Linked DNA regions of Homo sapiens: region 2 is linked to region 1. The links come from fine-mapping of genetic effects on gene expression. Tissue or cell type: whole blood. Region 1 holds a variant in brackets; the other region holds the start of a gene. All regions are shown on one strand. Distances are from middle to middle.

What was found. PIP is the estimated chance that this variant, and not a neighbour inherited with it, causes the effect.
Region 2: RIPOR2 starts here. The variant in region 1 is fine-mapped to the expression of RIPOR2 in whole blood (TOPMed, PIP above 0.99).

The regions. Positions count from the first base shown.
Region 1 is chr6:24,836,619-24,841,827 of GRCh38, forward strand. RIPOR2 (RHO family interacting cell polarization regulator 2) reads right to left here. Exons shown (of 22, transcript NM_001286445.3): 14 at 2,473-2,654. Among named protein-coding and RNA genes, the nearest start is that of ARMH2, 40 kb to the left of the region's middle. The variant G/A (reference allele first, on the strand shown) is at 2,900.
Region 2 is chr6:24,932,920-24,938,037 of GRCh38, forward strand. It overlaps RIPOR2 (RHO family interacting cell polarization regulator 2), which reads right to left and starts at 3,041. Exons shown (of 22, transcript NM_001286445.3): 1 at 2,919-3,041. The coding sequence starts at 2,979. It overlaps LOC105374981 (a long non-coding RNA gene), which reads left to right and starts at 1,056. Exons shown (of 3, transcript XR_007059514.1): 1 at 1,056-1,145; 2 at 1,327-1,451. RefSeq lists an enhancer at 3,754-3,923.

The sequences.
Region 1 (5,209 bases):
CTAGACGGGACAGGGAAGATTTGGGCTTCTAGCCTCACACTCTCTGGTGTCCACAATTTAAAAAGATTAGCACCAGAGCTTAGAGGCTTTGAATGCTTTATTCTGATTCTGATTCACATTTGACTCCAAGGGGAAAACACTCAGTTTGTGTCTGGGCAGTCCACACATAGCAGCCAATACATATTTAAAATACACACACACACACACACACACTCTCTCTCTCTCTCTGTCTCTCTCTCTTCCCTAATACTTCTGATGACATATAATAAGATTGATCAAATTAGACATATTTAATATCAATGATGTATAACATTTATAAAACCTGTGCTTGTGATATTTTTTTGTTAAAATGTTTCTTATAGCAAGAAGAAAAAAAGTTTAGATTGATGCCTGACTTTGCTACATCCTGTAACAGCTTAAGGTAACAAGTATGCAGAAAAATTTTTGGATAAGAAGTATTTCACAAATTCTATCAAGCTAAAAAATATTAAGGCAGAACAATTTATTTTTATTATTTTTTTTGAGACGGAGTCTCGCACTGCCACCCAGGTTGGAGTGCAGTGGCTCGATCTCAACTCACTGCAACCTCCACCTCCCAGGTTCAAGCCATTCTCCCACCTCAGCCTCCTGAGTAACTAGGACTACAGGCGTACACCACCATGCCTGGCTAATTTTTGTATTTTTAGTAGAGACGGGGTTTCACCATGTTGATCAGGCTGGTCTCGAACTCTGACCTCAAGTGATTCACCCTCCAGCTTCCCAAAGTGCTGGGATTACAGGAGTGAGCCACCACTCCCGGCCTTATTTATTTATTTGAGAGAAGGTCTCGCTCTGTTGCCCAGGCTGGAGTGCTGTGGTACAATCTCAGCTCACCTTGACATCCTGGGTTCAAGCAATCCTCCCACCTCAGCCTCCCGCATAGCTGGGACTACAGGTGTGCACCACCACACCCAACTAACTTTTGTATTTTTAGTAGAGATGGCATTTTGCCATGTTTCCCAGGCTGGTCTTGAACTACTGAGTTCAAGCAGTCCTCTGGCCTTGGCTTCCCAAAGTGCTGGGATTATAGGCATGAGCCATCATGCCTGGCCAAATGTAGGATAATTTAAACATTACATTCATTTAATAAATTTTCTTTGCCATGTCCCCAGATTGCTTATGGGGTAAATTCAAGTTCTCATGTTTTTTTTTTTCCTGGTTTTATTTTGAAAAAGGAAACCCTTCAGGGACAACAACAAACAAAAACTAGCATCTTTCAGGGAGATTTGTGAAGGTTGAAATCATAGCTTGCTGTAACTTGAAAACCCATTTACGTCATATTGTGCCAAGGTAAAGATGAGCGGGCAATCCACCCCCATTTTGGGAAAGTGTGTTTTCTTTCACAGCAATTGATGGAGGTGGGTATGTTCCATTGTGCTTATTTTGCTTTATATGTAGTTATAAATTTGGACCCCAGGCTCTAGTTCTCAAAACATGATTTGGCTGCATGAGGACACCGGACGGTGAAGGTGACAATGTTTCACCTTCATCTGTTGCTTCCAGAGAAGGTCACATTCTCCACCTAGAGACATGCAGTACCAGTGGCAGTCATTGGTCATCCCCTCTTACATTCTACAAGAAATATGCACCATGGGACTTAAACTTGACTTGGATGCGTGCCTTGATGAACTCAATCTCTGGCAAAGACTCACTGGGTTGAAGGAAACATGAAGGGTTGGGAAAGGGAAGCACAACAAAACAAAGGCAGTGGAAGTAAAGTGCAAGCCAGGGAGAACCAGGCCCAAATTTGTCATCCAGTAAGAGTTCTTCAGAAATGTGTATACCTAGTTAATTTGGAATTAATTACATGGGGTCAAGTTGTAGACACTGAACCCTATAAGACACATGTGAGGGCTGGGCATAGTGGCTCACACCTGCAATCCCAGCACTTTGGGAGGCTGAGGCGGGTGGATCACCTGAGGTCAGGAGTTCAAGACCAGCTTGGCCAACATGGTGAAACCCCGTCTCTACTAAAAAAATACAAAAATTAGCCAGGTGTGGTGGCGGGTGCCTGTAGTCCCAGCTACTCCGGAAGCTGAGGCAGGAGAATCGCTTGAACCTGGGAGGTGGAGGTTGTGGTGAGCTGAGATCGCACCACTGCACTCCAGCCTGGGTGACAGAGCAAGACTACGTCTTAAAAAAAAATGTGTACACATGTACTTGTATAAAACACTCTCATACAAAATTTTCCTCTCTATTTATAAAGAGGAAATATAAAGATATTTATTTTCCCTTAAGCAACCCAAAAGAGGTGAATAATATTGACCCTTTTATTGCACTTGACAATAAAAAGGAACTGTAAGCCAACTGGTCACTCATGTGGAGAGTTTTATCTTCCTGGAAATGTGTACCAGGTCCCCTCTGACAGTAACAAAGAACTACTGTATCAGCTGTGACAGGAGAAATATAAGGAGACACTAACTTCAGACTTACCTGTGTTTCTCAGTCTCAGTGTCTGAAAATACTGAGTCAGCACCTCCGCCAACATTACAAACCTCATCACCATCCTCCTCCTCGTCAAAATCAGAGGTGTTCAGGAAATCAAAGCTTTCTAAAGCACTTTCAACTGTGAGACTTAAACTGGAAGACCTGCTGCGGCTTACTGCTGGCTTGCACTGTAAAGGCAGAAGGCACCAGGGAGAACATCAACATATCCGGAAAGAGAAACCAGACACACGATGCTCAATTGGAGATGCCACACTTTTTTTTTTGTTTCAAGTTTTTATTTTTTGTTAGCATTTAAAAAATGCATTTAAAAATCTTTATATCCAAAAAAGAAGTACAACCATGGATAAAATGGCACAATATCTGGGACTGGTTGCAGAAGAATCCAGAGGGAAGTCAGCAGGTTGAAGAATAG[G/A]AAACAAGATTGGCCATGAGTTGATCACTGAGGAGGTTGAGGGATGGGCACACTGGGATCCATTAGAGGATCTTCTCTACTTCTGTTTGAAATTTTTATAACAAAAAGTTGAAAAAAAACAAAAAAAACAAAAAACAAAACCATGTCAACCACAAAGCCTTGGGAAACAGAACTGCTATATCCCTCTGCCTAGTGCTCACCCCAAAATAAAATACCACAAGCAGACAAATTTTAAGTCAGTGAGTCAATGCTGAATACTGACCAATCTCTAATTCCAAGTGGCAATGTCTTCGGTGTTTTACAAAAGGCGCTAGCTATCTAAGGCATCTGCTCTAAAGGACTAACAAAACAAATCCCAGAAACAGGAAGTGGTTCAAATTCACCTAGCCCATGTTCCCTAGGTAAGAAGCCCTGCATCTTTTTTTTTTTTTTTTTTTTTTTTTTTTTTTTGAGACAAGGTCTTGCTCTGTCACTCAGGCTGGAGTGCAGTGGTGTGATCACAGCTCACTGCAGCCTCAATCTCCCGGGCTTAAGCAATCCTCTCACCTTAGCCTCCCAGGTAGCTGAGACCACAGGCATGTGCCACCACACCAGGCTAATTTTTTTCTTTTATTGCAGAGACAGGGTCTCCCTATGTTGACCATACCGGTCTTGAACTCTTGGGCTCCAGCAATCCTGGGCTTCCCAAAGTGTTGGGATTACAGGCATGAGCCACCGCACCTGCTCACAGCATATAATTTTTCCTCTGAGGACTGAGGAAAGAATGAATGCCTTGGGCATGACAAGAAGCAGCCCTGCTTCCTCTGGAGCTCTGCCTCAAAGGGAACAAGTCCCACCACTTCCCTGACCAGGCCCTGGCATCATGGGAGCAATCCCATTCTCTGGCCTGGAGCATTCTATAATGCTGGCCACATGCAGAAACATTACAAGCAAAACAATGCCAGTTGCTATGGGCACAGAGTTGGAGAGAAGTATTTCCAAATATTCAAGAGGATGCTGGGGTGGGTCGAATGGGACAAATTCTGCAAGTTAGAAGCACTAAATGTCCTCCATCCAGTTAGGTGACACTCCTTGCTGATTTCTTAGCGCAAGGTAGGAAGGGCCTTGCAGGGATCTGTCTCTGACACTCAAGATGGCACAAAAGCACATGGGAAAACGTCTTTCGGTCTTTTAAATCACAGTTGTCTCATTCACCCTCAGTGATCTCCGTCCAAGAGGCAGCACCATTTAGTTTCTGATCGTCAAGGTGTTTAGCATCCTAGGAATGTGAAGGAGGGAGAAAAGAGAAAGCTTTGTCCAGCTGATGCTTTAATTCTGGCTGGATACAAAGCCATTTGCCCCAGACCTAAACACACTCACTAGTGATGTTTTCAGCAGTCTCAGGGGGAGACAGGGAGTCGGTCTTGACTTCACCTACTTCTAGGGTCTTTTTTCCTAAGCAAGGTGTCTGCACAATTTTATCTTGTACAGTACAGATGTGTTTAAATATTGGTCATGACAAAGAAAGGGGCAGTTGAGGATTTTAGTAGCAGGACAATTTTGGAACAACAGCAGACTGAAATAATACTCTGGAAAGAAGTCTCTGATCACCAGTTTTTAATAATGCTTAGTGTTTCCTGTGGATTGAGCTACTTACCATCACCCTAGATGCCTGGAATGGGAGCTGCTATCACTACTGGATTTCTCTAAGGAATTCACTTTAGATGGCATCAATTTGTGTCTTAGCTCTTTGAAATGAATACCTTTTGCCCACAAAGCAAAGCTGGTCAACTTTGCAGAAAAGATAGGTGTTTAGTAGAATACCAGACAAGCAGCCTGCATATACAAGCCCTGAGCTGATGGTTTTGAACTGATATTTTACAGAAAGTAGATTCAGAGTGCCCTTCTGTTTCTCGGAGGCTATGCCATCAACTGAACTATCTGTCATGAGCATTTGAGGACCTGGAGAGTCAGGACCTGAATTATCATCTGCCTGGGGCACAAATCTCCTACAGAGTTAGGTCAGCAAGACTGAGTAGAGAAGGATAAGATGGTCAAAAAGCCTTGGAAATGTAGTTTCAGATGCCACTGGGCAGGCTACATATAAAAACAATCACCATATTTTTTTTTTTTTTTTTTGAGACAGGGTCTCACTTTTTCACCCAGGCTGGAGTGCAGTGACGTGATCTCGGCTCACTACAACCTCTGCCTCCTTGGCTCAAGCGATTCTTCCACCTCAGCCTCCCTAGTAGTTGGGACTACAGGTGTGTGCCACCATGCCCAGCTAATTTTTGTATTTTTTGTAGAGATGGGATTTCATCATGTTGCCCG
Region 2 (5,118 bases), 96 kb after region 1:
TTTTGAAGTAAAGACTGGAGACTGGGTAGTAGAATGCTCAGAGAATGTGTAATCAGTCCCCTTGTTTCAGAAGAAGAATGAGGCTCAAAGAAGATAAATGACTTGCCCAAGATCCTCCAGCTATACCACAGCAGGGGCAAGGCTACAACTCAGACTCCTAACAACTTGTTCAGTGCTATATCTGCCACGTTAAACCTCTGAAAAGTTATTTATAAACTGAAGTTCTGTAAATAAGTCCTATTTTGAATCTGAGGTTAACCAGACGTGAAAAAATGGTCACTATTCTATAAACCCATTTTTGTAAATAGACAATAGGGATTCATATGTATTAAGTACTGACCACTATTCTAAAAGCTTTCCCTATCATAACACTTAAGCCACACACAGCCATATGAGGTTTGGACTCCATTTTATAAGTGAGTAAACTGAGGCACAGAGAGATTAGGTAACCTGCTTAAGGTCATAAGTGAATTGGTTGGCAAAGCCTAGACCGTGCAATTCCAGAGCTGAAGCTTTTGACTGTTACCCCACACAGAGCTTGCTTAAAATGAGGCAGCAGCTGGACATGCTTTCACATAAATTGCCAAACATGAGCCACGGCTCTGAAAACTGAATAAAAATACACTGGATGTTGGCCTTGCAAGGATTTTCTCTTTAATCTTTAGGGATTAAGTTAAATGAGATAATCAGTTTGGAAAAGATAAAGCATACCACATTGAAGTGCAACGCAAACATTATGCATCTACTATGAAGATAATCTGTACAACCGATAGGTATTACTGTCCCACTTCACCATTGAGGAGACCAAAGTTAGCTTGTATGGGTACCACGAAGCAGAACCAGAATCTGAGTCTGAATCTCGTTTGACTCCCAACTTATCAACCTGCACTACCTCCCTCACTTCCCACCTCAGAGCTAGCTGGTTACCTAGCTACCTGGAACCTGGGGACCTCAGCCATTCCACTACAACATGGTTAGTGAGGTTACAATAATCACCTTGGAAATGATGAATGCTCAGGAGAGAGAACACACAGGTTCATCCAGCCCTGCTTGGTCTTAACGCTTCCCTTCAGGATGGGGCCACGCATAATCCAGAGTGCAGTGCATCAGCCTATAGAGGGCGCTCTTAAGTATCATAGCCAGATGTAAAAGAGCAAAATTCCTATAGGCAAAGAAATGTGGGCTGGGCGTTTTGGAATGCCATTCCTGGAGGGAGGTGTGGGTGAATGATTGCCAATTTTTCCGTTCTAAGCTTATCTTCATAGTTGTGAGCATTTTTCAGGTCCTCAAAAGAGTTAGTATCTAAGTATAAATTTTCTCTTTAAGGTGTTTGCTTAAAGAGGAAACATCTTTAAGAAGTGAAAGCTGAAGAATGGGGCCTAAGATCAAACTTCAAGGTGTTGGTGGCCTAAACGCCTGCCATCAAAGTAACACAACAGAATGATAACTTGGTAAACAGCAGCGAAGCTCAATAGATATTCTTCAAATTGATTTAAGTTGTGATAAAAACCCAACTAATGATTTTAAATATTTCTGTAGCTAGAACAACATAGCAGAAAGACAACATCAAAATATTAACCATGATTACATTCTACATGACTAGATTACAAGGGGTTCTTTGCGACACTCTAATTTTTCTTCAGCGAACTTGTATTGCTTGGGTAATTACACATACACAAAAACCTTACTACTGTTCCTTTTAAAAAATTACTGAATAGAGTTTTTTAAAAAATTGCTAGACGTAGTTTCTTGCGGAAAATAATCAAATTCACGAGATTCTTGAGTCCAAATTTCCTTTATTTAGGTGGCTCCAAATTCTAAAAAAGCTTTTGCCTATAGCCCAATCTCATAGGCAGCATTTGAACAAAACATCCATCCAATGACTAGATCATCCCTTTAAAATCGCAACCTTTACAGTTAAATTCCAGTGGATAGGTCAAGTCATGGAAAAGCTGCAAGATGAGAACAGAAAACTGAGCAGTGCCAATGGGGATTGGAAGCTACCAGGGCTCCAGTATCCCGACTTGGGAAAAAAGAAAATTGGAAAAGGGAATGGAGGGTTGGAGTGCCAAGTATGTGTGAGGAAGAGTAAGAGAGAAGGACCCAGGCCGGGCATGGTAGCTCACGCCTGTAATCCCAGCACTTTGGGGGGCCAAGGAGGGTGGATCACCTGAAGTCAGGATTTCAAGACCAGCCTGGCCAACATGGCAAAATCCCATCTCTACTAAAAATACAAAAATTAGCTGGGCATGGTGGTGGGCGCCTGTAGTCCCAGCTACTTGGGAGGCTGAGGCAGGAGAATGACTTGAACCCGGGAGACGGAGGTTGCAGTGAGCTGAGATTGCACCACTGCACTCCAGCCTGAGCAACAAAGCAAGACTCTGTCTCAAAAAACAACAACAAAAAAAAAAAAAAAAAAAAAGAGAAGGACCGAGAGAAAGATAGACAGAGAGAGAGAGACAGAGAGAGAGAGAGACAGAAAGAGAGAAGTGCAAATCAAAGCAACATGGTACCATGAAAAACCACTCCTGGTCCATTTATTTAACTTCTTCCCTAGCAGCCCTGCTGTGCTCAAACCACTGTGACAGGCTTTCCTTAAGGTGTTAGACAAGAGATAGCACAGAAGAGAGACAAGGCAAAAAATTTAGTACTATTTTCCAGCCTAAACTAAACCTTTATTTTAGTCATGACTTTAAAAAATGTATTTGCGGGAATGACTCAACCCCTTGTTCCACCCCTTGCCTTGTGTATTCCTTCAGTGCCTAAGTTGATATTTGCAGCCACTACCTCACTCAGGATGCTTTGTTTTTATCATTTCAAAATACTCAAGTCCTTGCCCAAGCTGGGCAAAAGTGTCCAGTGGTGTCAAAACAAAGCAAAGCAGACCGGAGAGCCTCCTGCCAGAAAGATGCATTTACCTTCACCAAAAACATCATCCTCTTCATCGACCAGGAGCTCCTCAGCATCAAAAAACTGCATCTTGGAGAGGACAGGCGCGAGAAGCAGCAGGCAGCAGCCCCGGCAGTCTCAGCAGTCACACTGCCGACCGAGGTGATTTCCTTTCCTTGGGTTGCCCAAGCCCTCTGGAGGGCAGCTTCCGCATCTGCCCTGAAGAAAGCAGTTTCATTCATATGAATAGGCTTCTTGAGCCTTGTGAAGAGTGAATCCCAGGTGGGGTAATTCTCACCACTGAGGAGAAAGAATTTTTTGAAGAGGGCTGCAGATCCGGTTGGATATGAATACAGATATCACTCAAAGTCTGAATGCAATGAATTCTATTTCAAAGCAACAACTTTCATATTTCCTTAAAGAGGAAGGTGGGTGCTTAACTTTCTTGCTTATGAATTTGAACACAATGGGTTTTGTTGAAAGAGGGAGTTCATATTTCTCATATCTTGGTTTTGCTTCAATTACAATTTATCTGAAAGTAAAGCAAGCCACTATGTTAAACCAAAGCAGGCATTTAGAGGACAGAGCTTTTATTTTGCTCAGTAATAGTTGCATTTTTCTTTTCTTTTCTTTTCTTTTTTTCAAACCTCTTGCATTTAAGGATTGGAAACTTTACAGCATTTAAACCAAACTGAACCATATCTAGGCTTTATGTGGCTCGATTAAATCTATAGTCAATGAATAGATAACTGGTTTTGGTCAAACATCTTGCATTTCACAATATTTACTCAGTTTGATACTTCAGACTGTATCACTAAAGGAGAAAGAAGAAAATGTAACTCAAAAAGCAGTCCTCCCAAAGGGATGAGTGAACACTGAGCTTCTACGCGAGCACCATTGGCTGGCATCACCATATCGAGCTACCCAACGTGTGCCAAATTCTGTCTGGCTGCACAAACAAACACACATCTCTCTGAGTAATACTGAGACTTCATTTCGGGGTTTCCCAGAGCACTCCACTGTGTTGTAAGATCTCTTAGGTGGCCAGAAGCTTAGAAAATGCAAATGGAGATGACAGTGAGGAGCTGTTGACCCAAGGTGTTTATTTTTGGCACTTTATTTACTGCATGGTTTTGAAGATACTCCCAGTGTTACCCTAGAGAAACTGTCCCCTCCTCCTGTAACTGCAACCTTGAAATTGCACCATTTTCTCCCAGAAGAGACTGTGGACAACAGGGTTGGAGAAATCCAGCAGTGAGAAGGGATCACCCCAGAGGAATTCAGGAATCAGACACTGAGGGTTAACTGAGCAGCAACAGTCAGTTCATCCCTGCATTGGTGGCTGCAGCAGTTCCCAAAGACAGTGTACAGCTTGGGTCCTGCTGGGATCACCAATTGTTGTCAATCAGGGCTGGAACCATCCTTAGAGGAGAGCTTGGAAATGTCTGGGGTGTTTTGGGTGGCACAATGACTGGGGGTTATTACTGGTATTTAATGTCTTAGCACTCAGGGGCCCAGGGATATCAACCTTACCATAATGCATGGAACAGTAGCTCAACAGGAAGAACTGTCCAGCTCCAAATACCAATAATGCCCACCTTGAGACACACTGACAGGCAGAGAACTGGAGTTATCCTTTTCTCTAGCTCTCCTTTGCATCTCCCCTTTCTGACCCTTTTACCACCCCCTACCATGATCCCCACTTGAATGATGTTTCTGGACAAGGGTTGCACTTAGTTACATAAATTAAATTAATTAAAATGGGCCTAGGTGTAGGAAATTTGGATGTGGACTAAAGCTCTCTTTTGTGTGGTTGGGATAAGAGGATGGGTGTCCATTTTGATAATCACTACATTTCTCAACTACTGTCCTATGTCCTTTAATCTCCACAACTTCATGAGGTGGGTGCTATTATCCCATTTTACAGATGAAGCAATGGGGGCTCTGAGGGCTTGAAAAACATTCCTAAGATCAGGCAGCTAGTGAGTGGCAGATTTGACTAATTCCAGAGCTCACTCTGTTACCTCATGTCTGGACAACTTATGGGAGTGACTGCACACAGTCCAGTTCACTGCAGCATCCCCGTGGCTCTTGGGGACCTGCACTACCTCCCTCACCTCCCACCTCAGAACTACCTGGTTACCACGTGAACCTGAGGGCCCTAGCTATTCCACTTCAAAAAGTTAGCATAACCTCTGTAGGCCTGTTTCATTTTAAGTGGGTGGAATT